Linked DNA regions of Homo sapiens: regions 1, 3, 4, 5 and 6 are each linked to region 2. Evidence: fine-mapped expression QTL. A gene starts in region 2. Each other region holds a variant in brackets. All regions are shown on one strand. Distances are from middle to middle.

Region 1 (5,070 bases), 110 kb before region 2:
GAACCAAGCCTGGACCAGCCTATTCAGGACCAGCGCAGGGCTCTCCAGCAATCTTGGCAGCACTAACTTAGCGGCATCGCTGGGGTCGTGGGCTTGGGAAGACCATTCCTGGAGGTCGCCTGGGCATTTCCACCTGCCTTCTGGGGGACATCGAAGGCCGAGCCCGGGCCCCAGCTCCCTGGGGTCATACAAGACTGTGCACGTGGCCTTGGCTTCCCTGGCATGCCACAGCCCCGGGAGGGCGCTAAAGGGGGACTGGCCAGGCACAAGCTCCCGCTCGGTGGCACTGACCAGGACAGGACTTGCTCAGGCCTGGAGAGTGGCACCAGCCAGCCAGCATTGGAAGTAGTTCGGTTTTGCTTTCTGTTTGCTTTTCACTTTTGTTTTGTGGCTTGGAGCAGGTAGATGGGTGATGTGGCCCCAGGTTAAGATGGTGGTGATCCCTACCCTGTACATCATCCCATATGTGCCTTGTGAGCCAGAGACCCTGGGGATCCAGGGGCCTCAGACCTTCCGACGGGGCAGCGTGTTAGAGGTGGCTCTGGTGCAATCACCCTGTCTCCCCAGCAGCAGCAAATAGTGACTGTTTTGTTATTCACTGTTAACATCTCATGGCTGGCCAAAGAGAAAGTGAGTGTATAACAAGCTCAGGGGTGGCCCTCAGATCAGCTGGGATCTGCTTGGCCCAGGCCAGATGCTCCACAGACAGACGAAAAAGAAACTGTTTCCCCTGGAAATACCCCCATGGTCCAGTCAGCTAGAGAGCACAGGCCTGGCAAGGAGGGCAATGGGTTCAGGGTTTGACCAGGAGAGAGGCACTGAAGTGAGAAAGCCAGGGGCTGGGCCAGGGCCCTCTGCACTGGGGAGATGATGCCATTTCCCCATCGCCACGGTTTTGTTTTCATTATGTTAAAATACACAGCTCAGTGCCATTAGGGACATTTACAGTGTTGTGCAGCCGCCACCGTCCATCTCCAGAACTCTTCCCTTTTCCCAAACTGGAACTCTGTCCCCATGGAACAGCAACTCCACATCCCCTCCCTCAGCCCCTGGTGCTCACCCTCTACTTCTGTCTCTTTGGATTTTACTACTCCAGGGACCCTACATGAGTGGAGTCACACAGTGTTTGTCCTGTGTCTGGCTTATTTCGCTGATCACGGTGTCCTCAGGTCTATCCATGTTGCAGCCTGTGTCAGGACCTCCTGCCTTTTTAATGGCCAAATCATATTCCATGGATGGATGGGCCCTGATCTGTCTATTCTTCCATGGAAGAATTCTCATCACCTTTGCGTTATCTTTGTAGCCCACATTTCTCTTCAGTAAATCCCTGATGATGATGTCATTGTCTGCTCCTCTGCCCCAGCTCTGCTAACAGAAGCCACAGAGGCTTCTTCCTCAGCTCCTCAGAATCCAGACCCAGAGGTCGGTGTGGGCCTGAGGGGTACGGCGTGTGTCCCTTTCCCCCAGGGAGTGTGGCCCGGGAGGCTTTCTTGGTGCCTGCTCTGATGATCACCCATGGCGGGTGGGCTGGGGTGCTGGCCTTGTGGCCTCCCATGACACCCGTGACAGTGACCACAGGTGCTGGCTTGCCTTCCTTCTAATGAGGGTGCTATCCAGGGGTGGCTTTCAAAGAGTGAAGGGCAGGCACCTACCTCAGCTCATGCCCCAGTCAGCTGCTCCTCAGGTGGCTGAGGAGGGCCTGTTCCCAGGAATGATACTGCAGACAAATATAAAGGCCATTGTTCCCCTAGGTCTCTGCCTGGGGAGGTTGAAACTCCGGAAGCTGCCCAAAGTGGCTGTGCTTATGAGCGCGGCCTTGAAGCCCAAGGATATGCAATTTTTTTTTTTTTTTTTTGAGATGGAGTCTTGCCCTGTCGCTAGGCTGGAGTGCAGTGGTGTCATCTTGGCCCACTGCAACCTCCGACTCCCTGGTTCAAGCGATTCTTCTGCCTCAGCGTCCCAAGTAGCTGGGATTACAGGCACATGCCACCACACCCAGATAGTTTTTGTATTTTTAGTAGAGATGGGGTTTCACCATGTTGGCCAGGATGGTCTCGATCTCCTGACCTTGTGATCCACCCGCCTCAGCCTCCAAAAGTGCTGGGATTACAGTCATGAGCCACCGTGCCTGCCCGGATATGTGAATATTTTATCTAGCAGTGAATGAAGGTGTGGGGTGCCCAGCAAGGAGCTCTAGGGGTCTCAGTTATGAGGACACAGCAGGAAAAGGACAGACGAGAATGGCAGCATGTGCATGGTCAGTGCTGCCCAAAGGCAGGGCAGGCAGGAGGATGGGGTGGGATGGTGGGGGTCCCAGCAGGCTGGGGGGCAGGGCACCTGCCCGCCTAGCACAGTTGGGCGCAGCAAGCTGAGGGGCCAGAAGAAAACTAAAGGGTGTGGTGATTCCAGCAAACCCAAGGTCAGATTTCAGAGCAGAAAGTTGTCACTTGGAGAGCAGCAAGCATCTGTCCTGTTGATGTAGTCTAGGAGATGCTGTCACATCACCTGATACTCTGGAGTCTTTCTGAGATAGGTTGGCATCCCATTTACCCTGTAACACCCAAAACTTCTTATGTCCTGTTCTCTACCTGGGCGTTGTGCGTGGGCTGGGAACGGGAAAACTCGGGCAGAGCAGAGACACAGAGGGGGCGCCTGCTAGAGACTGCGTGAGGAGCCCACTAGGAGAACCGTGGGATGCCGGGCAAGTCTGCACTGCTGCGCTCTGAAGTCAGCCACAGACACATGGGTTTCCAAGCGAAGCTCCCTCCCCATGTGATGGAGGTCACAGTCGCCCTCCCTGTCATGCCTCCTTTCACCCTCCCAGCTGGGTCAGGTCCCCAGTCAGAGGCAGAGGTGAGCACAGTCTTGGGAAGCAACCTGCGGTCCACCCCCACC[G/A]CTCAGCCCCGCCTTTACAGCTGCGTGCGCTTCAGCCCTGGGAGGGCTGATTCTCACAGAGCTCGAGCTCCTTGGTGGTCCTGGGACTCAGCTCTCCTGGGTGCCGGTCAGGACCCCCATCGCAGTCCCGTGTGCATTTGGGAACCAAGTCCTTGGGGCTTGAGTGTAAATGGTCCTTCTGTAAGAAAGCTGATTCTGGCACCAACAGAGAGGCTGCCTCAGATGAAGAGTGTTAGCACCCGAAGGGACCCCCAGGCCTGTCCTGACCCTCCCACCCCTGCTGTCGGCCCAACTTGTGTCCCTTTCCTGGAAGAACTGCTTCCGGCGGCCAGTGTGCTATGCTTCCTCCTGGCTCTGCCCTGCACCCCCAGAACAGCCCCTGGGCTTACGGGAGACACTAGTCTCTGGGCTTCTGCAGCCAATCAAGCTGCTGGGCCCTCCCTCCCAAGCACTGGAGGAGGTACTCGTTCTGTGGGCCGGGGCCCCTCCCTCCTGAGCACTGGAGGAGGCACTTGTTCTGTGGGCCACGGCCCCTCCTTCCCCAGCACTGGAGGAGGCACTGGTTGTGTGGGCCCTGGCTCCTCCATGTCTGAGGGAACTGCTCTGCTTCTCCTACAGTCCCTGAGATTCTGCAGCTCAGCGATGCCCTGCGGGACAACATCCTGCCCGAGCTTGGGGTGCGGTTTGAAGACCACGAAGGTGGGTGAGCCCTTGCTGTTTGCTACAAAGTTACCAGGAGCTTGGAGAGGTGTCACAAGGAGAGCTCCCGGGGCTGGGCTGAGGCTCATGCTTCATGATTGCTGATGCAGAATCCCAAAGTGGCAGCCCCATGGGTCCCCCGGCGCCATTCCCACGCTGGCCAGCCTGGCAGGGGCAGGGGAGCACCCCGTAGCTCCTTCCCACTGCTGCGTGTGGTGGTGTCACCTCCCCTGCGCATCATCTCCCCTAGGGGCCTGGCTGCCCGCTGCCCCTGTTGCTACCGCCTTTGAAGCTCTCAGCTGAGGAACCAGCCTGTATCCTGTACACTGTCAACAGATTGCATGCTTGTTCTCCCACTTCGTGGAGGTCTTTTTGTTCCACAGAAAGTTAATTTTTTTGTTTTTTATTTTCAATTTTTATTTATTTGTTTATTGAGACAGAGTTTCGCTCTGTCGCCCAGGCCGGAGTACAGTGGCGCGATCTCGGCTCATTGCAACCTCTGCCTCCCGGGTTCAAGCGATTCTCCTGCCTCAGCCTCCCGAGTAGCTGGGATTACAGACGCCCATCACCACGCTCGGCTAATTTTTGTATCTTTAGTAGAGACGGGGTTTCACTGTGTTGACCAGGCTAGTGTCGAACTCCTGACCTCAAGTAATCTGCCCACCTCGGCCTCCTAAAGTGGCATGAGCCACATGCCCAGCCTTAGTTTCAGTTTTTATGGATACATAATAGTTGTACATATTTATGGGCTATGTGTGATATTTGGATACATGCGTATGAGGTACTATGATCAAATCTAGGTAACTGAGATGTCCATCACCTCAAGCATTTATCATTTCTTTGTGTTACGAACCCTCCAATTCCACTCTTCCACTCTGCCCCTGGTAATTTTAAATCTCAGATGTCATGTCCTATTTTCCTACTCCTGGCTGGCAAGACCTTCCTACCTTCTCGTTACAAAATGTTCTCGCCAGGTGTGGTGGCTCATACCTGTATCCTAGCACTTTGGGAGGCTGAGGTGGGTGGATTACCTGAGCTCAGGAGTTCGAGACCAGCCTAGGCAACATGGTGAAACCCCGTCTCCACTAAAATACAAAACATTAGCTGGGTGTGGGCTCCTTGGGCAGCTGAGACACGAGAATTGCTTGAACCCGATAGGCAAAGGTTGCAGTGAACTGAGATCGTGCCACTGCACTCCAGCCTGGATGACAGAGCAAGACTCTGTCTCAAAAAAAAAAAAAAAAAAATCACACACACACAAACCAAAATGTTCTCCTGTGCTTCACTGCTGCTATGGAGGTTTTTGTTTGTTTTTCTCCTGTGGGCCCTCGCTCTGACTGGGCAGCACCGCATGGTCTGGGCAGGGCAGGGCAGGGCAGGGCTGGCCCCGCAGTGGGGACGGCCCACAGAGCCCAGACTCTTCTCACACGCAGTTTATTTTGCAGGACTGCCCACAGTGGTGAAACTGGTAGACAG
Region 2 (5,069 bases):
TGAGACTTTGTTCCCAAGCCTCTCCAGACTTGGTGAATATAATTTAATCATTACTATTACAGCTTCCAGAGCCACACACTGTGGTATAGACTACTGAATGATACACTAAACTAACATGAATTTGCCAATGAAATGTTTCCGCATTTGGCAACAGAGATAATAAAATAAGACAGCATTCTATCTCTTGCAAGAAAAAGCTTGAGATCAATTTGCCGCCACAGATCATTTAGTGGACAACAAGGACCCAAGAAGATGGAGGGGAGAGATAGAAGCTGCGGGCAGGTGCAAGGAGAGCCTCTCTGAGGGGTGATCCGCCCAGAGCCACACCGGATTGAACAGCCCTTGGGGCAGGGACTCCAGAGGGCAAAGGCTGCCGGGTGAGAGGCAGGAGGAACAGCGCTAGGAAGGTTTGAGGAGGTGCTGCCCCCAGGAGGGAAGTGGGGTGGCTCCCCATGGCTTCTCCCGGGGCTGGCACTGAAGCTGGAGCACAGGATGTGCTGACGGGGGTCCAGAGGCAGAGTCCTTAACTTACTCAGCTTAAGCGTGGCATGAGTCCCAACTGGGAGGGGCCCTGGCAGCATGAAACCCCCACCCCCACTCTCTGCGACGGCCCAGATGGAGGGCAGGAGGAACAGCGGTTCAGCCCTGGCTGGGGCTGCAGGGGCTGGGGTGTGTTACTCACTGGCACGATGGAGAACTGCATGAAGAGGCAGGTAAGTTCTGTGGCGGCCAGCACGTAGGTAAGCAAGATGACCGAGGACCGGCCTAGAGCGCTCATCCTGCCGGGGGACCGGCCCTGGTCCCTGGGAGCCCGAGCTCCCTGCATCCTGGACAGGCGCAGCAGGGAGACCCAGGAGAGATCCAAGCAGGAGGCTGGCGGAGCAGGGGGCAAAAGTCCAGTTGATCCGGGCAGGGGTGCTGAGTCACTGGGTCCCAGGCAGCACCCGCCTGGCCTTGCCTGCAAGAGAGGACAGCACTGCAGGACCCCCTCCCCAGTGGAGCTCTCCTGCTACCTGGACCTTAGAGGACACATCAGGGGGTCCCCCTCCTCCACTTTTGACAGCTCTGGTCTCCAGGCACACAGCCTCCCGGGGAGGGGAGACAGGGACAAGCTGCTCCCCCCGACCCCTGCAGGTGGGCCAGGCTCAGTGCCTGGTTGCCTGACACAGGAATGTGCCATGCCCCACTTTTAGAGGGAGGCAGAGGCTCGGAGTGGTGGCTGAGTCCACCTCAAATCATCAGCGCCTTCTGTGGCCAGAGGGCTGATGTGGGTCCCTGTGCCTGGAGGCCCTCCGTAGGCCCACAGTGGCCCTGTCCCCAACACAGTGCAGCTCTCAGGGAAGGTCTACCTTCCCCTGTGGCCAGCAGCCAGAGCTCCAAGGGGCTTCTGGAATGGTCTTGCGTAGGGGAGACATAGCTCAGCCTTCCAGGCTCCCCAGTAGCTCTGCCTTACCTCCCACAGCGGAGTGCTGTCTGTCCCCACCCTTCCCCGCCCGGCCTCCAACTGGTGGGAACTGGATTTTGCGGCTGCAGAGGACTTCCCCAAATTTTGCCACATTAACAGCTGACTGCACATCTGAGCCCCGAGGTACCGAACCCAGGCTGGTGGGGTAGGGCGGGGAGACCCCTGAGGGTCCGGGAGCTGCGCCTGGCGCCCTCCCCCATCCCGGGATGCAGGGAGGCTGGGGGGAGCAGGGCAGCCGCAGCAGGCACGTCAGGGGCACCTCATTGGGCAGAGGTGCGACGCTGCGCCGGAGTTCGGGGTTCGGGGCTCAGAGGCCGCCCTCTCCGGAGTGTGCTCGAGTACCTGCCTTTGCAGGGGCGGGCTTGGGCACGGGTGCCGGTGGGGTGAGCGCTCCAGGGTGACCTAGACACCGGTCCTTCCGGGATGAGCCCCGGCCCCGCCCTTTCGGGAGATGACTTGCAACAGGGACCGCCCCTCTGGGTCTGAGTTCCAGCCCTCGCGCTTTGCAATCGCCAGTTCCGGGAGCGCCCGTGCCACGGTTTCTGCGCTCTCACTGGCCGAGCCCGCCCCTCCCCTCGAAGGACCCGCCCCTGCCCCGCCCACCAGCGGGCTCGCCCCGTGCCCGGCTTCGCCCGCCCCAGCCCCCTCCAGCTTGAATCCTGCCCGGTGCCCGGGCTGCTGGAGGTGGACACTCTGACCCTCAGGCAGCACCGGTGTCCACTTTGGGCCTGAGGAGGGGCAGTGTGGGCAGGGGATGGGACCGGGAGGTGGAGGGAAGGAGAGAATGGAGGGGAGGCAGGGGCGGGGAGAGAAAAGCGGAGGAATGGTGGTGAGGGGTTAGGGGAAGAAGTCAGGGGAGGTTGTAGAGGGTGTGGTGTAGCCTGGCCCTGCCAAAGGTCTGCACAGAGCCCCAGAAGAGTGACCAGGAGACAGCTCTGGGCCCCTCCTCACTTCCCTCCCCAGACCCGGAGGCTGCTAGGAGCAGTTGAGAGCCCACTTTTCCCCATTTCACCCTGCCTGCCACTTCCCCACCCTTGCAGGGGCCACCAGAGATGCCAGCACACAGGTAAACAAGCCTCATGCCGCCCTCCGCAGCAGGAGCCGCTGGAGCACACACACCCCACGCTGCGCACACTTGGCCCAAGCCCTGCCCTTGGCCTGGGCACCATTCTCCGTGCCCCTGACTGTCACTAAGTAGGGAGATGCTCATTCAGGACTCCTGCCCCACCTCCTCCCCAGGCAAGGGCTGGGCACAGGCTCAAATGTCAAAACCAGTGTCCCCCTGCCATGTGTCAATCATCGCTCCACAGAGCAGAAAACTGCAGGGGTGAGACAGGGTGGGACGGACATCGCAGAGGCGAGCGAGAGCCGGCCAAAGTCCTGGTGGGCAGGGGGGCCAGAGCCAGGTGGCCCAAGGCCGGCTGGCTAAGCCATTCCAAGTCACCGTGGGAGTGGTTCAGCAGCTACCCTTCGTTCAGCAGCTCAGATATGTTGGGCATCAGAAAACAATACCCCAAAATGAAGGCCTCAGAAGCAGCTTCGGAAGAAAAAGTGTTTCTCTGACCTTCTCTTGCTCTCCTGTCTCTCAGTGCCATTTTCCCCGAAGCTGGCCTTAGAAACTGGAATCCATTTTCCCCAGGGCAGGTCATAGAAATCAGAACCCCGCCTTTCCACACAGCCAGACATCAAACCTAAAAATATTGCTCTAACTTTCCCTCCACCTTTGTGTTTAGAAGCTGGCCATAAATTATCTGACCTCTCTTGTTTGACTGTAGGGCATAAGACCCCATTCCAGGAGGGTCCTGCTCCATGCCCAGAAGGAAGGAATGCTGCTCAGAAAGTTCAAGAAATCTAGACCAACAGCCCTCGCTGCGCTTCCCCTTGCGGTCCAGGAGCATTAGTGCAGGTCCCTTGGTTCATCTGTGTTCCCGCATGGATGTCCATACTTTGTTGAGCCTAAGCATCAGAAATGGCAATTTCCCCCATATCTTTTTTTTTTTTTTTTTTTTTTTTTGAGACGGAGTCTTGCTCTGTCACCCAGGCTGAAGTGCAGTGGCGCGATCTCGGCTCGCTGCAAGCTCCGCCTCCCGGGTTCACGCCATTCTCCTGCCTCAGCCTCCCGAGTAGCTGGGACTACAGGCGCCCGCCACAGCCCCCGCTAATTTTTTTGTATTTTTAGTAGAGACGGAGTTTCACCGTGTTAGCCAGGATGGTCTCGATCTCCTGACCTCGTGATCCGCCCCCCCTCGGCCTCCCAAAGTGCTGGGATTACAGGCGTGAGCCACCGCGCCCAGCCTGTTTCCCCCATATCTTTGGGTCTTTGTTCTGAAAACTCCCATTCACACACGTCAATCAATTTGGGGACCAAATGCCTTTTGTCCAATCAATCTGCCCTCTGTGAGGTGGTTTCTTAGCAAGCCCACGGGTGCAGTGTACCGCTCGAGGGGATTCCAGCCCAAAGAGTGCAAACGTGTTTGCATCTGGAGTGCGTGTCCCCAGATCCTCTGCCAAGCTCGTTTTCAAGAATAGTCACCACTGGCCGCCCTGGGGACTTGGGGAGAGTGCAGTCAAGCCGAGAGCCCAGGTCCAGCCAGAGTTTCCTGGAAGGACTGCACAGAAAGGCCGGCTGTGTAAGGTGGGGGTGGGTGACAGGAGTCTCAGAGTGTCTTAGATTTGGGACTCCTGGGGGAGGATGGGCATCCACATGAACCCTTACTCAATGGGGCAGGTGTGAGGGACTGTCCCCAACAGGTTCCAGACGCCTCCTGGGTTCCCTGGGGAGGGCTTAGAGGATGAAGCGGCAGGAGGAGATGGGATGAGTTACCAAACTGCCCAGAGGTGTGCGAGGGAGGCTGAGGGTCCTCTGGCGCTGAGGTGTGGTGGAGATGCTGGAAACTTACCACTGTCTTCCTCCAGGTGAAGCAGGGCCTCAGGTAGCCAGGGAACTGGTTGAGCAGAGGAAATCGGAGAGACCTTTTTTTTTGTCATGAACAGGCTCAGTGTGAATGGGGGAACTTCCTGGTTCTGAGGGAATGTGGGAAAATTGCCCTTTAGGCTGGGTGAAGAAGAAAGCAAGTGGAACCCTGGCACCCCTGGACTTCCTCCTCCAGAGGAAGCGGCTTTGGTTGTGGGCCAGCGAGCCTGTGCGTCCCCAGCCCCAGGGCATTCACCGCTTCAGAGAAGCAAGGCGACAGTTCTGCCGGATGAGAGGATCCAGGCTGACTGGAGGAAGGAAGGGCTTTGGCTCATCTGGGCTCAGGTTTGGGAGAGGTGGCTTCTCAGAGGAGGTGATGCCTCAGCCAGTCTTAAAGGTGAGCACGGATTGTTTGGGTATGGGAAGGGCATCCTGGCTGAGAGAATAGCATAGATAACGGCTTAGAGGTGAGCCCAGGCTTGGAGTGTTCAGGAAGCTGAGCCACTGGAAGGGGCTGGGACCAAGGGTGTACAGTGGGGTGACGGGGCAGAAAGTGAGTCTAGAGAGAGGGGTGACCCTGGGAGCGCTGGGCAGGGACACAGCCAGACGTGCACTGAGAAGTATTGCTCTGAACACTGCATCCTGGAGGCTGGGACCTCTGAGGGGTCTCCCGAATGAGAGGAGGCCAGC
Region 3 (5,070 bases), 37 kb after region 2:
TCCTCCTGAGGCCTCTCTCCTTGGCTTGCAGACGTCACCTTCTCCCTGTGTCCTGGGAGGGTCATGCCTCTGAGTGTGCCTGTGTCCTCCTCTCCTTATAAAGACCCCAGTCCTGTTGGATTAGGCCCACACCAATGGCCTCATTTTAACTGTTTTCTGTAAAACCCTGTATCCACATACAGTCATGTGCTGAGGTGCTGGGGGTGAGGGCTTCGACATATGATTTTTGGGGGATACGATTCCTCCCATAACACTGGGCTTCCAGATTGGGCGTCCTGCCCTGTGGCCCGGGATGCCTGCTGGTGAGTGGCAATGTCCAGACCTCTGGGGACCTGGTTCAGCATGAGAGCCAGGTTGAGCTGTGGCACCTGCTCCTGAGCTGGGGGTAGGTGTGGTGACTGAGGCTGATGACAAATGCAGGCTCCAGGGCCTCCTGCATTTCAGAGAGATCTCAAGTGGCATTTGGGGACCCTGGTATTCTCCTCAAAGGATAAGCGTCTAGACACGGATGCTGTCTCACCCCCTCCCGCCCCCCTCACTGAGAAACGAGGCTCCTCTGGAAGCCGGCACCATGCCAGGCTGTGGGGAGAAGGCAGGGGCACCTCCAGGGGCTGGTTCCCTGCCAGGGGCTCTCAGTGCGGTGCTGCCAGCCCCACACCCGTGGTGTCTTCTGCTTATTTTGCTCTCTTGCTTCGGCCTTGGGCTTTCCTTGCCTTTTCTTCTCTCTTCTCTCGTTCCTACTTTTTCTTCTCTTTCCCAAATCTGCCCCTGCCCCCGCCCCCCAAGAAATTCCTAAATCTGAATAAAAGCCCAACAGGGCCCAACAGCGAGACCCACCCCCCAGCTCTGCAGGATGACCTGGGCCCAGCCCTGACGTCTGCTCTCGCACCCGCTGCTCTGTTGCTGTGCAACCTAGGCAGGTTAGTTGACCTCTCTGAGCCTTGGCCAGCCTGCCCAGTGGCAGACACAATGCTGAAGTGTCTCTTGGGCAGAGTGAGAAGGAGCTAATGAAAATGGCTGAGAAAACAGTCTAGGCATTTAAAAAATGTCACGTAATTGCAAAATAATAACGATAACAACAATATACTTTGGAATTTTGCTGGAACTGAGAGCAGGCCCGAGTGGAATTTGGCACTGAGTGGGTCTGGCCTGGCTTCCATCCAAGGGGGTTTAGTTACTGAGGTGCCCCCAGGACTCCATTCTGAGGCAGCCCCTCTCGTAAGATGGTCCTGACAGTGGACTCTGGCATGGGCTGTGGCTGGGGTCCCTCATCGGCTGGGGCCAGTTCCAGGCATTATTGCTACAGCACCCAGGTCACAGGGCTGGCAAGCCAGTGGGGCTTTTTATTTCTTTTGATTTCCAAATTGAAAATAGCCATATATTTCCCTTGGTTGTAGAAATAGCAGCATATGCTCATTGTAAAAAAAAAAAATGCAAACAATATGGGAATGTATAAAAAAGACAGTAAAAATTCCCCCAGATAGATGCTGCTATCCTGAGATAAGCGCAGATGGCACTTTGGGGCTCTATATCATTTTACATCTATGGGACTCACATTTACTTTTTAAGTCCAAAGCACATATTTTATTTTAATTAAAAAATATTTTTTGAGATAGGATCTTATTCTGTCACCCAGGTTGGAGTGCAGTGGCACGATCATGGCTCACTGCAGCTTCCAACGCCTGGGCTCAAGCCCTCCACCCACCTCAGCCTCCCGAGTGGCTGAGACCATAGGTGTGTGCCACCATGCCCAGCTAATCTTTAATTTTTTTTTTTTTTTGTAGAGACAGGGTCTCCCTATGTTGTCCAGGCTGGTCTCCAATTCTTGGGCTCAAGTGATCCTCCTGCCTCGGCCTCTCAAAGTGCTGGGATTATAGGCATCTGGCATAAAGGTATATTTTTAATAGAGACAGGGTCTTGCTATGTTGTCCAATCTGGACTGGAACTCCTGGGCTCAAGAGATTCTCTCACCTCTGCCTCTGGAGTAGCTGGGACTACAGGTGTGCACCATTGTGCCCAGCTCAAAGTACCTATTTTAAAGTATTAGAATGTCTATCTATTTGTATACACACACACAAACATATACTGTTTTAATTGAAAGTATTTAACCATAACAAACTGTTCAAGAGACCCGTAATCTGAGTGTGATAAACAAAGTAACAGTTTGGCAGAGAGTTGAGTACAAGCAGCTGGTGACAGTGCTAGGGCGGGAGAAGGCGGCTGGCGTCTTTTAAATGTGTTAGGGAAAGGCCCCAGGTTACAGGATTGGGAATGCGCTGTTGTTGAGAAGTGGCCGAGGGAGTACGAGGACAGTTCAAATGCTCTGGGTCTACCCTCGAGTGTGGGGTGAACATGGCGATTGCAGCAGTGGGTCCACACGGCACCTCAGGGCCCAGGGAGGGTTTGGAGGCGGAGGGCAGCTGGGCTGCACTGTCTTCCCCAGAGGAAGATGGAGGCCTCTGGTTAATGAAGCAACCACAAGGGGTTAGGACCAAGAGATGTTTGTCTCAAATGGGTGTAACCATCCCATTTGAACTGTTTCCTGGAAAGAAATGAAAGGGGGATTCTGACGGGGCACCTGTTATTTTATTGATAGGAAATGGTTTCCATCCCGTGACCATGGAAATTTCCACGGTGCGTCCTGGCCGTGCATATTCTATGAGCCAGCTTCCCCCAGCCCACGGCATGTCACTGTGCTGGCACCCATGAGACAGTGCCCTG[C/A]AGGATGGGTGACAAGGGTGGCTGAGCCCTCCGGCCTCGGCCTCGGTGTCTACTGGAACCCCCCATTAGGTCCCCCAGGTGGGCCTTGAGTACCAGCAGGGGTGTGGGCCAGGCCCTGAGCTTCACCCTGAGGGGAAGGTGGATGGGACTCCTTTCAAGAGCCAGGTGAGGGAGGTGTGGCACAGGGCAAAGGTTGAGGCTCCTGGGTGTCCAGGGAAGAGCAGCCCCTGAGGGGCCTGAGGACACTCAGAGGAGGAATGGGTGGAGGAGAGCTGGCAGCCAGGGTGCCCGTGCAAGGGCGCAGCAGGGCAGGCTCAGTGATGTGGAGCTGGAGGGTGGGCATTGAGGCGGAGGTGGGGGGTGGGGGGTGCGGCTGTGAAGGTCACGCCAGGGCCAGGGTGCCAGAGTCAGACTGGTGGCAGTTGGGCCAGATTCACTCTGTCAGCTGACTTCAGTCCCAGCTGAGCCCAAGGCTGAGGGATCCGCCTGCACTTTCAGTCCTCTGGCTGAGCAAATTACGAAAGTATCACAGAATGTTTCAGGAACAGATGATTTTCTTTCTCTTTCTTTCTTTCTTTCTTTCTTTCTTTCTTTCTTTCTTTCTTTCTTTCTCTTTCTTTTTTCTTTCTTTATCTCTTCTTTTTCTTTCTTTCTCTTCCTTTCTTTTTCTTCTTTCTTTCCTTTCTTCCTCCCTCCTCCCTCCTCCTCCTCCTCCTCCTCCTTCTTCTCTCTTTCTTTCTCTTTCTCTTTTTTTTCTTTCTTTTTTGAGATAGGGTCTTACTCTGTCACCTGGGCTGGAGTATAGTGGCACAGTCATGGCTCTATGTAGCCTCCACCTCCCAGGCTCAAGTGATCCTTCCTGGGACTACAGGCGCGCCGCTACGCCTGGCTAAAAAAATCAGAAGATTTTTTGTAGAGATGCGACCTCGCCAGGTTGTGCAGGCTGGACTGGAACTCCTGCGCTCAAGCAGTCCTCCCGCCTCGGCCTCCCAGAGTGTTGGGATTACGGGCGTGAGCCACCGCGCCCGGCACCCTTTTCTTTTTAAAGGTCTGTGGCTGAGTTTTGTATTGGGAGTATTCTTACTTACCCAGAACGTGGCTCTGTCTCTGTTTCATCGCTGGTGGTGGAGCAAGTGAATCACCCACCAATGTATAGGTTTTCTAAGTTTGTGGTTGAAATTTTGCTAGTAAAGTGGACACATCACAAAGAAACTGCCTCCCTCCCTCACTCTGCCCAGCCTGCCCCAGCCCTAGGCTTCGAGGCAGGCCTGGGCTCCCGGAGGATGCTCCCTGGCGCTGTGGGGCCAGAGGCCTGGGCCAGGCTCCTGCTGGGGCTGGAGATGGGCGGGGTGGCGGAGGCCGGCCCTGGCCTGCCTCATTTCTGCGCTCCGACCAGCCTGGGAATCTGTTTCTGTCATGAAAGGCGAGGGTGACCTGGCGGGCTTCTGCTCCTGGTTGGTCAGAAAGTCCGGGGATCCTTGGCTCCGGTTAAAGGGGCCCCCACGTCTGCCGTCTTGCCCGGCCGCCTCCAAGTGCCGCCGGCCCAGGGCTGAGGAAGGCGGGCCGCGGGGAGAAGGCGCGAGGGCCGGGCCGGGCAGGGGGTCCCGGAGCCAACCCCACCGCCCGGGCCGCCCCGGGCCCGCGCCCGCCGCCCCCACCGCGCCGCGCGTCTGTTTGGAGAAGAAAGCGGGCCAATTTGTTTTCATTCAGAATCACTTAAGATCCCATTTTGGAGAAATGAAAAGAGAGAAGCGCGCTTCCCGGGCCCGGGCCGCTGGGTGCCCGCCCGTGCCCGGCGGCGCGTCGAGTGGAGGGACAGCGGCCCCCTCCCTGCCCTCGGCCCCAGCACGCCCGGCCGCGGCTCCCGGAGGTCCGAGGAAGGCGGCGAGGCCGCGCTCATCTGCATGAAGCGCACACTCGCGGCCCATCTGCAAAGGCGCAATTAAACGCGGGGGTGGGGGGGCAGGGGCGCCCGAAATTAGCATTTCCGCGGCCATCTGGCGCGAGGAGCGGGCGCGGCCGGACAAAGGGCGCCGGGCGAGGGGAGAGGCGAGTGTGCCGCGGCATTGACCTGCAAATGAGGCTTTGTGCGCGCATTAAAGCTCGCCGGACCCCCGACCCCGGCCCCCGCCCCGCCCGCCAGGCCCGCGGCCCCTAGCGGCCCAGGCTCGGACTGGGCACCCCGAAGGTCTGGGGGTCGGGCCGGGCAGTGCCGCGACTGGGCAGGGGGCCGGGCCGGGCCGGGCCTGGCCGGGCCAGGACAGGCTGTGGAGCGTCGGAGCCCCCCACCCAGGCTGGGTTCCTCTGCAGCCTCCAGGAGAGCCCCTGGGACCCTGGCCCCTTGAACCC
Region 4 (5,059 bases), 25 kb before region 2:
CCTGCGCCCTAACAGCCGGGACCGGGGCCTTTGGGAAAAACCACTTCAACCCCAGACGGCGGGGCGGGGGCGCTGCACCTCCTTGGGGGACCCGGCGCCCCGCAATCGCGCTGGCCCCCTCGCGTCAGGGTCTCGGGGCCCCTCAGGCTGGACCCGGACCGGCCCTGGCACAGCTCTCTGACCCAGTCCTTTCCCCACAGGGCCATACGCTGGACGAGTCGGACCGAGGCTAGGACGTGGCCGGCGCTCTCCAGCCCTGCAGCAGAAGAACTTCCCGTGCGCGCGGATCCTCGCTCCGTTGCACGGGCGCCTTAAGTTATTGGACTATCTAATATCTATGTATTTATTTCGCTGGTTCTTTGTAGTCACATATTTTATAGTCTTAATATCTTGTTTTTGCATCACTGTGCCCATTGCAAATAAATCACTTGGCCAGTTTGCTTTTCTACCATCCGGCTGTGGCTCAGTGAGACTCCTGCTGGGAGGGTGGAGGCCCAGGAATGGGCGGGCAGGACACCCTCATCCAGTCCTGCGGGGCTGGTGTGAAAGGCGCTGGGAACCGGCTTTGAATGAATAAATGAATCGTGTCATCTGCTGGGCCTGGTCCACACCCTCTTTTCCAAGCAGCCTCCCCAGAGGCCAGGAAGTGCCCTGGGGCTTGACCCTGGCTACCTTCTGCTCCTTGGTGTGTCCTGAGGAATTGAACCTGGGGAGGACAAGGGCCCTGGGTCCGAGCTGCTGCTGCCTGTGGTGGGGGAACCTTCCCCAGCAGCACTTCCTGCCCACAAACCACCCGCGCAGTCAGACCAGAAGGAATCCCTCAGCCCTCTGGCTGCCCGCCGCCAGCCGCTCCTTGCCAGTGCCCGCAGTGTGGGGCGGGCAGGGTCGCCTTTGCTTCTGGGGGAACAGGAGAGAGTTCTGGGCTGTCTCCGATGGTGGGGCAGGAGGCAGAGGTCCCTGCACCTCCAGGTACTGGCCCAGGACATTGGGGTGGAGAGGCCTGAGTGCAGCAAATCCCTGCCCCTCTTTCTGAGATAGCTGACCACGGCTTTCTGCCCTCCGGTCTGGCTGTGCTCTTTGAAAGACAGGGATGGTCTGAGACAGTTAGGGTTCAGGAAGTGTGTCCCCCACCCAGAAGGGCTCCTGGTGATGAACAAGCTGAGGAGGTGATAAGGGGTACAGGCATGACTCCTCACCCCACAATGGGGCCTTCATTTCTGGAACCTTCGTGGTTGGAGGGATGCCAGTAGGGGAGGCAGAGAAGTACCAGAATTGGACCCTAATCTCTGTTGCTAGGAGGCCGACGAAGCCTGGTAGCTGGTCTGGGCTCAGGGCGGGGAGGGTGCTATCCCTTCGCTGCATGGCCCGCAGGAGTCTTGGTGCTAGGTCCAGAAGAAACTATTGCCTGCAAGGAAGTTTCTCCCGAACGCAATTTGTGAAGCCCCTGTGCAGATCGGGGAGGGGCTCCTGCAAAAAGCAGAAAACAGCAGCCAAGGACGCTGCCTGGCTGGGCTCCTGGGCCTCCTGGCTGGCCCACCAGAGCCTCACCTGGATGGATATCCAAGGTCAAGAGGAGAGCCCTTGCCCCTGGGTGCTTCAAGCATAGGCATGATCCGGCCTGAGCTTTAGGCGAAGAGGGTGGATGGCCCTTGGCTCACTGAGGCCACTTCTTGTTTGAGGAATTTTGGAATTCCTCAAATTCTGAGGACAGTGGAATTCTAAGGTTTGGGGAGTCCATGTTTCAACAGCTTCTTTTAAAAGCAGCCCGAGGAGAGGAGGGGCGGCCTTCATGGTCTCAGGGGCAGCTGCAGACCCTCGCTGAGGCTGTGGAAAGCCTGTCCTCTCCAGATGGGTCAATCGGTCACAGCGGCTGGGCTGGCCTCCTCATGCCCAGTTCTCCTCCCCAGAGCCCAGGACCAGGGGGTGGGGGTGAGGGGTCGGGAAGTGCTGTGGTCAGGAGGCTGGGAAGGCAACGGTACATGGCCTGGCCAGCAAATCAGCTATAGAAGGGACCCCCAGTTCCCAGGCCATGGATGGGTACTGGTCCATAGCCTGTTAGTAGCTGGGCCGCACAGCAGGAGGTGAGCAGCGGGGCAAGCATGACCGCCTGAATTCCACCTCTCGCCAGATCAGCGGCAGCAGTAGATTCTCACAGGGACGAGAACCTTGTTGTGAACTGTGCACAAGAGGGATCAAGGTTGAGCACTCCCCATGAGAATCTAATACCAGATGATCTGGGGTGAAACAGTTTCATCTGGCCCACCCACATCCGTGGAAAAATTGCCTTCCATAAAACTGGTCCCTGGTGCGGAAAATGTTGGGGGCCACTGAGCTGTAGGATGAAGAGGCTGAGATAAGGGGACACCAGAGGAGTTCTGGGGTTCATGTGGCTGGCAGTGTCTGGTGCGGTTCTGGGGTTCGGGTGGCTGGCAGTGTCTGGTGCAGTTCTGGGATTCGGGTGGCTGGCAGTGTCTGGTACGGTTCTGGGGTTCGGGTGGCTGGCAGTGTCTGGTACGGTTCTGGGGTTCGGGTGGCTGGCAGTGTCTGGTACGGTTCTGGGGTTCGGGTGGCTGGCAGTGTCTGGTGCGGTTCTGGGGTTCGGGTGGCTGGCAGTGTCTGGTGCGGTTCTGGGGTTCGGGTGGCTGGCAGTGTCTGGTGCGGTTCTGGGGTTCGGGTGGCTGGCACTGTCTGGTGCGGTTCTGGGGTTCGGGTGGCTGGCAGTGTCTGGTGCGGTTCTGGGGTTCGGGTGGCTGGCACTGTCTGGTGCGGTTCTGGGGTTCGGGTGGCTGGCAGTGTCTGGTGCGGTTCTGGGGTTCGGGTGGCTGGCAGTGTCTGGTGCGGTTCTGGGGTTCGGGTGGCTGGCAGTGTCTGGTGCGGTTCTGGGGTTCGGGTGGCTGGCAGCCTCCTTGGTACAGTTCTGCGACCAGGGTTTGGGTCTGTGTGCTGGACTGTTCAGCAGAATGAGGGCATTTTTCCTTCCATCTAGGAAGGCCTCAGTTCCCTGATCTTTTTTTTTTTTTTGAGATGGAGTCTCGCTCTGTTGCCAGGCTGGAATGCAATGATGGGATCTTGGCTCACTGCAACCTCC[G/A]CCTCCCGGGTTCAAGCGATTCTCCTGCCTCAGCCTCCCGAGTAGCTGGGACTATAGGCGTGCACCACCTCACCCAGCTAATTTTTTAAAAAATATTTTTAGAAGAGCCGGGGTTTCACCATGTTGGCCAGGATGGTCTCGATCTCTTGACCTCATGATCCTCCCGCCTCGGCCTCCCAAAGTACTGGGATTACAGGCGTGAGCCACTGCGCCCAGCCAGGTTCCCTGATCTTTTAAAGCAACCTGTTTCTGCTCTTGGGCAGGCACACTGTGGGCGGGAGTTGGGCAGTGAGCTCGCCATTGCTTGGGATGTGAGCAAGAGCTGTTTGTGTGGCAGCAGGGGGACCTCCTCCATGGGCGGACTCAGGGCTGTACTAATAACAGTGAACCAATTTGGGTGGTTCTGTCCTCCCCAGAGCTTTGCCCAGCTGTAGGCGCCCTCCTTGAGGAAGCCCTCCAGCCCGAGGCCCCATCCCTCACTGAAGGACGCAGGCAGACCATGCGTGAGCCTGCAGAAACCAGGCCGGAAGAGGTCGGAGGGATTTAGTAGGAGTTTATTGCCAGTCTGTGTCTGGGCAGCGGTCACCGGACTTTGTCCTTCCTCTGGGGCATAGGTTTCCTCCAGAGGACCAGGAGGACAAGGGTATTGATAGCAACCTGCACGTGGCCGAAGACGGGGACGCCAAAGCTGCGGTACAGGAGGCCGCCGACCGTGGGTCCCAGAGTTCGGAGCAGTGGTTGTACAGAGGCGCAGAGGCCCAGCATGGTCCCTGGGGGGTGCATGGGGGTAGTCAGGCCCTGGGCAGCTCCCTGGGCCAACTGCCCACTTCCTGAACACAGCCATGGCCTCCCATCTCTCCTGACCCACCCTGACCTCACGGCGCAGTCCGCACCTTGCATAGTCTGGTGAAATACTCCCCTGAACACCCATCCTTTCCACCTGCCAGCTTCTAACCTCCAGTCCCCCACCCCCTGCCACCCGCCCAGCCTTTGGAGCAAACACAGCTCTCTCTACCCACTGGTCTGTTCCCCGAGGACCTCTCAGCCATGCAGGGTGCTTCCCAGGGCATTGGGCTGAGTCTCTTCCCTGCTCCAGAAAGTTTCCAAGCACAGGAGGAGCCTGGGAATGGGACCACAGGTCACCGCAGAAGGCCCCGCCCTGCCAGGCCTGCCAAGGGAGATGGCATCTGTGCCTGGGGCCCGGAACCTCCCGCCCAGGCTGTCAGGGAGCTGGCTCTCACGGCTCTTTCCCAGGGTGCCTGCCACCACCGAGGGCTGGTGATGCAGTGGGGAGGCTAAGCCTGGCCTGTGAGACACCGTTGGGGCTTGAGTTCAGAGTGGGCATGACACCCCCATCCCACGGCCCCTCCTGGCCATCAGCCCTTCCTCCAGCCGCCCCACCCTGCGGAGCTCCTACTACTCCATGGAACTCCCCCTCACAGGGCTGGGAGGGGCTTTGGAAGCCCATGCAGGGCCCCTCCACCTGCCCCTCCTGTCCCCAGAGCAAGACCGAGCGGCTTCCGAGGCTCCCCAGACAGCCCCGACCTGCGCAGCAGCCTGCTCTGTCCCTGACACCGCATCTCCACGCCCCTGTGGCCAGCTACCCGCAGCATGGACGGGCACGTGGGCACTATCTGTGGCTGTTGTCAACACTCGGGCAACAAGGGGGGCAGCACTCGCCAAGCGGGAGGACCCCCCAGGACTCCAGGTGGGAGGACACTGCCTCTGGTCCCGTGCCCAGAGGGTCTCTGGCTCCAGGGACTTCAGAGCCCAGGTCTCCTGGAGTTGGAACTCCCAGGGCTGGTCAGCTGTGATGAGGAGCTGGCCAGGCCCCACCTGGGCTCAGGGCCCAGCATGGAGGACCATTAAGAGCAGCCTCTTCTGCAGACTCAGGGTGCAGTTCCTGCCCCTTCTGTCGCTGGGTTTCCAAGCTGCTGCTGGGAACCAGATGCTGGCTCCTACCAGGCCAGG
Region 5 (5,070 bases), 280 kb after region 2:
AGTGAGAAAGACAGTTCTACAATAATACTTAGGGACTTCAATAACGTACTTTCAGTAATGGGTAGAGTCAAAGAAGAAATGAAAACAGAAACTTAAAAATATCTTCAGACAAATGACAGTGGGAACACAACATACCAAAAGCAAAACATGCAGCAAAAGCAGTTCTAAGAGGGAAGTTTACAGCAATAAATGCCTTGCCTACATTAAAAAAGAAGAGATATTTCAAATAGCCCAAAATTGTACCTCAAGGAATTAGAAAAAGAAGAACAAACTAAAGCCAAAGTTAACAGAAGGAAATAATAAAGATCAGAACAGAGACAAGTTAGAAAGAAAAACCATAGGGGAAAAAAGTCAGTAAAACTAAGACTTCAATTTTTGAAACAAAGAATTGATTTTTGAAAAATAAAATCAACAAACTCTTGGACTAAGAAAGAGGACAAAATCAGAAATGAAAATGGAGAATATATTACAACAGGTACTTCAGAAATAAAAAGGATCATAAGGGACTTTTATGAACAATTATATCCCAACAAATTGGATAACCTAGAGGAAATGGACAAATTCCTAGAAAAAAACCAACCTGCTAAGATTAAATCAGGAATAGAAAGCCTGAACAGACCAATAGCAAAGAGATCACAGTGGTAAACTAAAGAGCTTCTGCATAGCAAAAGAAATTATCAACAGAGTAAACAGACAACATATAGAATGGGAGAAAAAATATTTGCAAACTATTCATCTGGCAAAGGTCCTATGTCCAGAATCCATAAGGAACTTAAACCAATCAACAAGCAAAAAACGAATAATCCAATTGAATTGGCAAAGGACAGGAACATACATTTCTTAAAAGAAAATACAGAAGTAGCCAAACAAAAAAACATTCTCATGATCACTAATAATCAGAAATGCAAATAATGAGGCCAGGCACGGTGGCTCATGCCTGTAGTCCTAGCACTTTGGGAGGCTGAGGTGCGTGGATCATCTGGGGTCAGGTATTCGAGACCATCCTGGCCAACATGGTGAAACCCCGTCTCTACTAAAAACACAAAAATTAGCCAGGTATGGTGGCGGTCACCTGTAATCCCAGCTACTCAGGAGTCTGAGACAGGAGAATTGCTTGAACCCAGGAGGTGGAGGTTGCAGTGAGCCGAGATTGCGCCACTGCACTCCAGCCTGGGAGACAGAGCAAGACTCTTTCTCAAAAAACAAACAAACAAACAAAAAAGCAAAAAACAGACAAAAAAAAACAAAACAAAACAACAACAACAAAAAAACACCAAACCATAATGGGATGCCATCTCACACCAGTCAGAATGGCAATTATTAAAAAGTCAAAAAAATAAAAGTTGCTGGGAAGGCTGCAGAGAAAAGGGAACGCTTATACACTGTTGGCAGGAATACAAATTAGTTCAGCCACTGTGCTAAGCAGTTTGGAGTTTTCTCAAATAACTGAAAACAGAACTACCATCTGACCCAGCAATCCCATTACTGGATATATATTCAAAGGAAAATAAATTGTTCTATCAAAAAGACACATGCATTTGTATGTTCATCACAGCACTATTCACAACAGCAAAGACATGGAATCCACTTAGATGCCCATCAGTGGTGGATTGGATAAAGAAAATGTGGTACATGTACACCATGGAATACTATGCAGCCATAAAAATGAATGAATTCGGCCAGGTGCGGTAGCTCTCACCTGTAATCCCAGCACTTTGGGAGGCCAAGGCGGGTGGATCACCTGAGGTCAGGAGTTCGAGACCAGCCTGACCAACATGGAAAAACCCTGTCTCTACTAAAACTACAAAATTAGCTGGACGTGGTGGCGCATGCCTCTAATCCCAGCTACTCAGGAGGCTGAGGCAGGAGAATCACTTGAACCCGGTAGGCGGAGGCTGCAGTGAGCCGAGATCATGCCATTGCCCTCCAGCCTGGGCAACAAGAGCGAAACTCCGTCTAAAAAAAAAATAAAAAAAAAAAATATATATATATACATGAATGAACTTACGTCCTTTGCAGCAACATGGATGCAGCTAGAGGCCACTATCTTAAGCAAATTAATGCAGGAACAGAAAACCAAATACTGCATGTTACCACTTGCAAGTGGGACCTAAACACTGAGTAAACATGGACATAAAGATGATCAGTAGACACTGGGGACTACTTGGGGGAGGAATGGAGAGGTGGGCTGAAAACCTACCTATTGGGTACTATGCTCACTACCTGGGTGATAGGCTTATCCACACTCCAAACCTCATCATCATGCAGTATACTCCATATACCATGCAACATATAGACCTGTACATATACCCTCTAAATCAAAAATAAAAGTTAAAAAAACCCCAAAACCTCAAACAAAGAAAAGCCCAGGACCAGATAGCTTCATGACTGAATACTACCCAATATTCAAAGAATACCAATACTTCTTAAACTCTTCCAAAAAAATGCAGCTATAGGGAATACTTCCAAAAAAAAAAAA[AT/T]GCAGCTAAAGGGAATACTTCCTAACACATTTTATGAGGCCAGCATCACCTTGATACCCAGGTGAGCCAAAGGCATCACAAGAAAAGGAAACTACAGGCCAACATAACCCAAGAATACCGATGCAAAAATCCTTAATAAAATATTGGCAGACTAAATTTAACAATACATCAAAAAGATTATATATCATGTCTATGTGGAATTAATTTCTGGCATGCAAATCTTATTTAATATACATGTAGCAATCAATGTGATACTAACAGACTGAAAGATGAAAACCACATGATCATCTCAATTGACACACAAAAAGTATTTGATGAAGTTGAACATCCTTTGTTGATAAATTCTAACAGTTCAGGTATAGAAGGAACACTCCTCAATATAACGAATGCCATTTATGAAAAGCCCACAGCTAACGTTATAATCAATGAGGGAAAACAGAAGCCCTTCTACTATGAACCAGTACAAGGCAAGGATGCCCACTCTAGCTACTACTACTCAACATAGTACTGGAAGTACTAGTACAACCAAACAGACAAGAAAAAGAAATGAAAGACATTCAAATCAGGAAGTAAGAAGTAATATTATCTTTATATGAAGATGACATGATCCTACATATAGAAAACCCCGAAGACTCTGACAAAGCAACCTGTTAGAACTAATAAATGAGTTCAGTAAAGTTGTAGGATATAAAATCAATATAAAACAGTAGTTGCATTTCTATACACAAATAATGACCTGGCCAAAAAAGAAATCAAGAAAACAATCCCATTTATGATAGCATCAAAAAAATTGCTTAGGAATAAATTTAGCCAAAAAGATGAAAGACCTGTACACTGAAAACTATGAATCATTGATGAAAGAAATTAAACAAGATACAAATAAATGGAAAGATATCCCATGCTCATGAATCTGAATAATATTGTTAAAATGTCAATAATATCCAAATCAATATACAGATTGAATAAAATCCCTATCAAAATCCCATGGAAAATTTTTTTAAATTCTAAAGTTCATTTGGAATAGCAAGAACCTTAAGTAGCCAACGAAATTCTGAAAATTCTGTTCTGAAAAACAAAGGGAGACTTCATACTTTCTGGTTTATTTTACAAAACTATTGATCAAACAGTATGGTCCTGGCATAAAAAACAAACATGTAGACCAGTGGAACAGAATAGAGAGCCCAGAAAGAAATTCAAAGATATATGATCAACCAATTTTCCACAAGAACACGAAGAAAACAATGCAGAAAGATAGTCTCTCTCATAAATGACGTTAGGAAACCCAGTTCTGTGGCTTGTCCAACCCATGGCCCACAGACCACATGTAAGCCCAGGATGGCTTTAATGAGGCCCAACACAAATTTGTAAACTTTGTTAAAACATTGAATTTTTTTGCATTTTTTTAGCCCATCAGCTGTTGTTATTGTTAGTGTATTTTATGTGTGGCCTAAGACAATTGTTCTTACAGTGTGGCCCCGGGAAGCCAAAAGATTTGATATCGCTGCCTTACACCATACATAGAAATAAACTCAAAATGGATAAAAGACCTAAACATAAGACCAAAACCCACAACCAGAAGAAAACATAGGGGAAAAGCTCGACATGGCTCTGGCAGTGATTTTTTGGAGATCACACCAAAAGCTCAGGCTACAAAAACAAATAATTGGTATACCATCAAACTAAAAAACTTCTGCACAGGAACGGAAACAGTCAACAAAAGGAAAAGGCAACCTATGGACTAGAAGAAAATATTTGCCAACCATATATCTTATAAGAGGATAATATCCAAAATTTATAAGGAATGCATACAACTCAATAACAAGAAAATAGATAACCCAATTAAAAAATGGGCAGTGGAACTGAGTAGACATTTTTGCAAAGAAGTTATAAAAATGGCAAACACATATATGAAAAGACATTTAACATCACTAATCGTCAGGGAAATGCAAATCAAAATTACTATGCGATATCACCTCACACTCATGAGAATAGCTATTAAGTGTTGGCTAGGGTTAGGGAACTCTTGTACAGTGTTGGTGGGACTGTAGATTGGTGCAGTCATAATGAAAAACAGAATGGTGGCTCCTAAAGAAATTGAAAATATACTATCATCTGACCCACTAATCCCTCTTCTAGGTATATTCCCAAAGAAAATGAAATCTCCACCTCATAAAGATATCTGCGCTCCTATATTCATTGTGGCATTATATGCATGAGTCACGATATGAAAACTTACGTGTCCATTGATGGATGACTAAACTGTGGTGTGTATGTCTACAATGGAATATTATTCCGCATTAAAAAAGGAGATCCTGCCACTTGCCACATGGATGAAACTGGAAGACATTGTGCTAAGTTAAATAAGCCATATACAAATGAAAAGTTTTAAATAATCTCACCTATATGTAGAATCTTAAAAAGAAAAAAGTCAAATATACAGAGATAGAATAAACTAGTGGTTACCATGGGCAAGGTGTGGGGGAAGAAAATGGAAAGATGTAGGTCAAAGGATACCAAGTAGCAGATATATAGGATGAACAAGTCTAGAGATCTCATGTAGAACATGAGAATAGTTAGTATATTGCATTTG
Region 6 (5,070 bases), 31 kb before region 2:
CTCCCTCTCTCCCTTCCTGTATTTTGTTTGTTCCTTTGTTCATTGGTTCACTCCTTCAAGCTTCTGGAGACATCCCCACAAGCCAGGTGCAGGGCGGTCATGTTGGCTGCTCTTGTTTTCCATCTGCGAGTGACTGCTGGGAGGGCCCTTTCCTGAGCTCCCTGTGTCCTGGCCCCATCTCCCAACCTCTGGAGGCTCCATAACCACCCACAAGCAGCCCTGTGGAGGTGACACCAGCCTGATGGAGCCCGACGGAGGCCCCACTCTGCCCCACGGGGCCCCCTCATCTTGGCACGCCTGACTGCCAGTCTCACCCGAGGCAGCAAGGGGCTGTCTGGTCTCATACACACGCCAACAGTCTGCACGTTCAGTAGTCAGTGCAGAGGGGGTCTTTTGGACAATGACGTGGATGCCTTTATTTTTTGAGACAGGGTCTTGCTCTGTCACCCAGGCTGCAGTGCAGTGGAGTAATCACGGCTCACTGCAGCCTCGACCGCCTGGGCTGAAGTGATCCTCCCAACTCAGCCTCCCAAGTAGTTGGGACTATAGTGCACATGCCACCATGCCTGGCTAATTTTTATTTTTTTTTTTGTAGAGATGGGGGGGTCTTGCTGTGTTGTCCAGGCTGGTCTCAAACTTCTGGGCTCAAGCAATCTGCTCACCTCGGCCTCCCAACTTGCTGGGATCATAGGCGTCAGCCACCGAGCCCGGCCTCAGGATGCTTTTTTAGCCATTTCCTGAGTGCCTGGGCTGATCCCTGGGGCTCCCAAAGAATAAAACATTATCACTGCATTTAAGGAGCTGATAATAGCTTCTGAGCAGGGTACTGAGGGATAAACAGGAGCTCATCAGGGGCCAAGGAGAAGGGTGTTCCTGGTTTCTCAATCAATCCCCAACATCTTGTGAGGTAGGACCTGCCTGTCAGGCTCCAGTGGAAGAGCTCAGGAAGAGACACAGCAACAGAGAACACAGCCCTCCAAGGCCAAGATCAGGCTGACAGCAAGTGTCTGAAAACCAGGTGGGTCATGCCACGGGGCCTCTCACTTTCCTCAGGCTGCAGCTGGGAGGAGACAGATAGAGGGCAAGCCTGAGTCACAGGCCCTGGCACATGGGCCATGTTGGGCTCAGGTGAGGTGGCACCAGTGCACTGCTCAGGTGCTGCAGCTCCAGGCAGCTTAGGTCTTCCCCCAGCCTCCCCAGGCTCAGGTGGGCGGAGGCTTGGAGACCCATGGCCTAGCAGTATGTGGTTGGCAGGAGGCAGGCCTTAGAGTGCGCCCTGGCAATCTGAGAGGGCTTCCTGGAGGGGGTGAGAGGAGCTAGGGGTGGGCCTTCCTGACTGAGGAGCAGTGGGCCTTTCTGCAGGGCTCTCTCTGAGCAACCCCTCCCACAAGAGGGTGGTGTCAAGCCCCAGGCACTGGGCCGGGCCCTGTGACACGCAGCTTCCTCACAGGCTGGCAGGATGGCCAGGCTCGTTGGGCAAGTGCCTGGAGGGCCCGGCCTCGTCACCGTAAGGAAGTGACCTCACTCAGGGAGTTTCGGAGAGGTGCCCGCATCCTACTCCAGCTGCTGACAGCCTCACACAGCTGGGCTCCGGTGCCAAGGGTCCAGGCAGCTGGACAGGGCAGCCAGTGTCCCAGGCCAGATGTTTGGGCACCCAGACTGTACAATGCCTGCCCAGGGGTGGGGGCCCTTGGCTCAGGCTCTGCATGAATCCTGGATGTGGCCCCTCAGATAAATATCAGTAAACCCGGTTTGGACTGATGCTGCCTGACACCACCAACTCGAGGCAGAGCCCCCTCCCCATCCTGAGAAGCAGTCACAGAACATCAGGGCTGTTTCCTGCCCCGAGCCACAGGGTGCCACAGAATCGGGGAAGCTGTGGATGTGGCCGCACTGGCCACTGTGTAACCTGGGTGAGTCACCACCTCTCTGAAACCCCCACCCAGTGTTCCCTGCAAACCCAAGAAAGCAGTCTCAACAGGGAGAAATGACCGCACAGAACTAGCACGGGGCAGGGCCACACGGACTCTCCTGCCGGTGCCTGGCCCTGGCATCTCTCCGGCAGGTGGTTCCTCCGCCTCCAGCACGTGAGTGGTCCAGAACCCTCGTAGAAGCAGGTCCCATGGGGTGTGGCCGAATCCACGCCGGGTTCCAATCTCTGTGCTGTGCTGGAGAAGCTCCCAGGCTCTTGGCTATCAAATGGCTCTAGGAGGGGCATTCCTCAAAAGACCCTCATGTGGGGTCCCTGTGTCAGCACTCTTCTGCCTCAACATCCCTCCCCCACATCCCAGGAAGTGAGTGTCACAGCCCTCATCCTCCAGAGGGGACCCTCAGGCAGGCCTGCTCTGGGGGATAGAGATAGGGTCCCTCCTTGGAAAGGTGACCTTGACAAGTCACTGCACCTCTCTGAGCCACCCTTTCTGCATCTGCAGCTTGGGGCCAGTGCTTCTCCTGGGGGCACCGCTCAGCCCCAGGTGGGACCAGGTGAGGCGGTGAGGCTCAGGCCTCAGGCAAGGGAGGCCGAGCGGGGGCTGGCAGAGGGCGGGTGGCTCAGAGGGGCAGA[C/T]GGCAGTGTGAGTTAGTGGTGGTGGTAAAGCCCCTCGGGTGGATGGTGGACGCAGAGAGGATGGGGCAGCCCCTGTGTGCAAGTACCTGCCAAGTTGGCATGGTGTCCTCCAAGCCCCTCTCACCTCCTAAGGCCGTGGTTTATTTTTGCCCATGTCCATAAAGACACCCTGGGGGCTCCTGAAGTCACCTGCTGGTCCAGGGCTGGTAAGGCTTGGGAGTCGGCTCCCTCCAGCCCCCACATTGGCAACCAGGTTCAGGCTGGTTTGGCCGAGCAGGGGCCCAGGGTGTCTAGCAGCTGCTGGGGAGGCCAGGGCCACTACAACTGAGCCCCTGGGGCAGGGACTGTGGGCAGAGAAGCTGCCTGGGGAGGCCTGGCCTCCAGGGCTCAGACCTGATTTCCAGCAGCCCCTAAAGGGCCATCCACCCCCATACCCCCCAGGTCTTCACAGTGTCCATGAGGGGAATAGCAGAGAGGGGCTGAGTGGGCAGGAAATCCCCTAGGGAGGGCAGGGCCTCTGAATCTCGGCTGCACACCCTGCCCCCTGGCCTCCCAGCTCCTGCCCCACCTGTCAGAGCATCACCCCTGGGTTGTAAGTCCTGCCCCCAGGGGAGTGAGTTTCCCAGCCTCCCTTGAGAGGGCCACTGGGGTACAGGCAAAGAGAGGAGCTGGGCGGGGCTGGGGGAGCACACCTCACCTGGCCTCACCTGGTTTCCAAACCCTCTTCCTCCCCCTCATTTCTCTCAGCCCCTTATCTGCTCCTGCCTGTTCTCTGTCCCTTCCCCAAGGCCCTCTCCATCCTGAACCAGTTTCCTCTTCTGTGGAACAGGGGCTGGAGTGCCCACTTTGGGGAGTTCTCTGGGTTAGGTGGAGGCTGGGCACAGTGGTGGCATACGGGCACCACTGGCCCTTCAAGGTCTCCTTGGAATCTTCGAGGGCACGCCCTCCCCACAGAGTCCTCCAAGCTGTCCTCCTGGCCTCCAGTACCCCCGACCCCTATCCCCATCCTCATGTACCTGCTGTGCCCCTGGGGTTTAGAGGGATTCCTCTCCCCTCCTCTGGGGTCCCAGCACCAGCCAGGCCTGCAGGCACACAGTAGGTGCTTAAGCAACCACGAGTGTCGGGGGATTTGCCTGGAGCCGAAGTTCCACTGGCTGGCCCCTCAATGGGGTAGGCAGGCTGGTGGGCCTGGAGGTGTTCCAGGCACCTGTGGGCTGGCGCAGTGACAGAGCGCTCTGCCCCCGGCCGCTTCTCCTGGTCTCCCACTGCCCAGAGGTGCCTCTTGCCCAGGTCCCACTGTCCGGCAGCCCAGGGCCCTCTGGAAGCAAAAGAAGGGACACCAGAGTCCGAATCCTTCCTGCAGCCTCTCCGGAACAATGCTCGAATCCCCTCTCCCCGCCAAAGGCTGACCTCCCCTCACCCACCCACCCTACCTGCTGCTCCCTCACCACAGGATCCCAGCCCTGCTGCAAGGACAGGTGTCAGGTAGGGGGCAGTGTTGACCCGCCGGCCCCAGGCAGGTGTCTCACTCCCAGGCCAGAACCCTGGCACAGCCCAACCCTGCCCTCTGCCGGCACTGCCCCTCCACACCACATCCCTGCCCACTGCCAGGTCCTCTGGCCACACCGGTGGGACCACCGGGCAGCTGCTACCTGCATGCCATTCACAGAACCGGGTCTGGGGCGCTCCTCTGAGCCGGACGTCTCTTTATCCTTTACAGTGACCCTGAAGGGCAGGTGGAGGTAGGGCTGGTCCCAGGTCTGGGTTTTACGCTCTGCTGCCACTGTCTTGACATTTTAAATACATTTTGAATCAGGGGACTCTCGTTTTCATTTTGCGTGAGCCCCGTCATTGAGGCCAATTCTGACCCCAGAGTTGGGACTTCCTGCTGTAACCACCCCAGGGCGCAGCTAGGGGGCAGGGGTGCGGGAAGGTGGGAGACGTGGAGTAGTAGCCGGGGTCTCTGGGGTCCTCTCGGCCGGCTCCACCCCCACCCCTGGGAACCCGGGAAGAGCCGGCTTTCGCTTCCTGTCTATTAAACCCTTTAAAGGAAGAGGGTAAATAAAACCGCCCGTCTGCCCAGCTGGAAAGCGATGACTCAGCCGCCCCCGCCGACCCTCGCCCCCAGGCTGATCCCAGAGAGCGGGCGTCGCGGCCCAGCCCGAACCCCTCAGCTCCTGGGACCTCTCTCCGGTCCGGGTCGTGGGGGCGCGGTCGGAGCAGTCCGTACCCCAGTTCGGGACACTACGAGGGCGCAGGGAGGAGAACGGGCTTCCTCTTCCCCTTCCATTTTCTGAGCTCTATGGGTTGCTGGTCTAGCCCTTTCCACGTGTTCCCTAATCCAGCAAAGGTTACTGTTCCCATTTCACAGAAGCGAAAACCGAGGCTAAGAGAGGTGGTCGTTCTTGGCGCAGCCCGTGGGTGGCAAGATAGGAGCTCGGTCCGCTAGGGCAGGGCCACTTTCGGAGAGGGTCTCTGGGCGGCCCTGGGAAAGGCCCCCGAACAGG

What was found. PIP is the estimated chance that this variant, and not a neighbour inherited with it, causes the effect.
Region 1: its variant is fine-mapped to the expression of SLC67A1 in whole blood (TOPMed, PIP above 0.99).
Region 3: its variant is fine-mapped to the expression of SLC67A1 in whole blood (INTERVAL, PIP above 0.99).
Region 4: its variant is fine-mapped to the expression of SLC67A1 in blood mononuclear cells (TOPMed, PIP 0.98).
Region 5: its variant is fine-mapped to the expression of SLC67A1 in memory regulatory T cells (Schmiedel 2018, PIP 0.95).
Region 6: its variant is fine-mapped to the expression of SLC67A1 in lung (GTEx, PIP above 0.99).

Annotation. Positions count from the first base shown.
Region 1 is chr11:3,005,403-3,010,472 of GRCh38, reverse strand. It overlaps CARS1 (cysteinyl-tRNA synthetase 1), which reads left to right. Exons shown (of 23, transcript NM_001014437.3): 19 at 3,514-3,594; 20 at 5,040-5,070. Among named protein-coding and RNA genes, the nearest start is that of NAP1L4, 16 kb to the right of the region's middle. The variant G/A (reference allele first, on the strand shown) is at 2,896.
Region 2 is chr11:2,899,103-2,904,171 of GRCh38, reverse strand. It overlaps SLC67A1 (solute carrier family 67 member 1), which reads right to left and starts at 1,894. Exons shown (of 11, transcript NM_002555.6): 1 at 1,808-1,894; 2 at 683-958. The coding sequence starts at 826. It overlaps SLC67A1-AS (SLC67A1 antisense RNA), which reads left to right and starts at 597. Exons shown (of 3, transcript NR_169305.1): 1 at 597-713; 2 at 1,463-1,588. RefSeq lists an enhancer at 206-707 and a silencer at 1,633-1,762.
Region 3 is chr11:2,862,228-2,867,297 of GRCh38, reverse strand. No RefSeq gene overlaps it. Among named protein-coding and RNA genes, the nearest start is that of KCNQ1-AS1, 3.2 kb to the right of the region's middle. RefSeq lists a cis regulatory region at 1-142 and an enhancer at 3,642-4,339. The variant C/A (reference allele first, on the strand shown) is at 2,722.
Region 4 is chr11:2,923,809-2,928,867 of GRCh38, reverse strand. It overlaps SLC67A1 (solute carrier family 67 member 1), which reads right to left. Exons shown (of 11, transcript NM_002555.6): 11 at 3,622-3,858. The coding sequence ends at 3,671. It overlaps PHLDA2 (pleckstrin homology like domain family A member 2), which reads left to right. Exons shown (of 2, transcript NM_003311.4): 2 at 201-595. Among named protein-coding and RNA genes, the nearest start is that of PHLDA2, 3.1 kb to the left of the region's middle. RefSeq lists an enhancer at 1-171. The variant G/A (reference allele first, on the strand shown) is at 3,089.
Region 5 is chr11:2,617,123-2,622,192 of GRCh38, reverse strand. The region is part of intron 10 of KCNQ1 (potassium voltage-gated channel subfamily Q member 1); the gene reads right to left. It overlaps KCNQ1OT1 (KCNQ1 opposite strand/antisense transcript 1), which reads left to right. Exons shown (of 1, transcript NR_002728.4): 1 at 1-5,070. Among named protein-coding and RNA genes, the nearest start is that of KCNQ1OT1, 80 kb to the left of the region's middle. RefSeq lists an enhancer at 1-159 and a silencer at 912-991. The variant AT/T (reference allele first, on the strand shown) is at 2,480.
Region 6 is chr11:2,929,946-2,935,015 of GRCh38, reverse strand. No RefSeq gene overlaps it. Among named protein-coding and RNA genes, the nearest start is that of PHLDA2, 3.1 kb to the right of the region's middle. RefSeq lists enhancers at 865-1,477, 4,492-5,070. The variant C/T (reference allele first, on the strand shown) is at 2,564.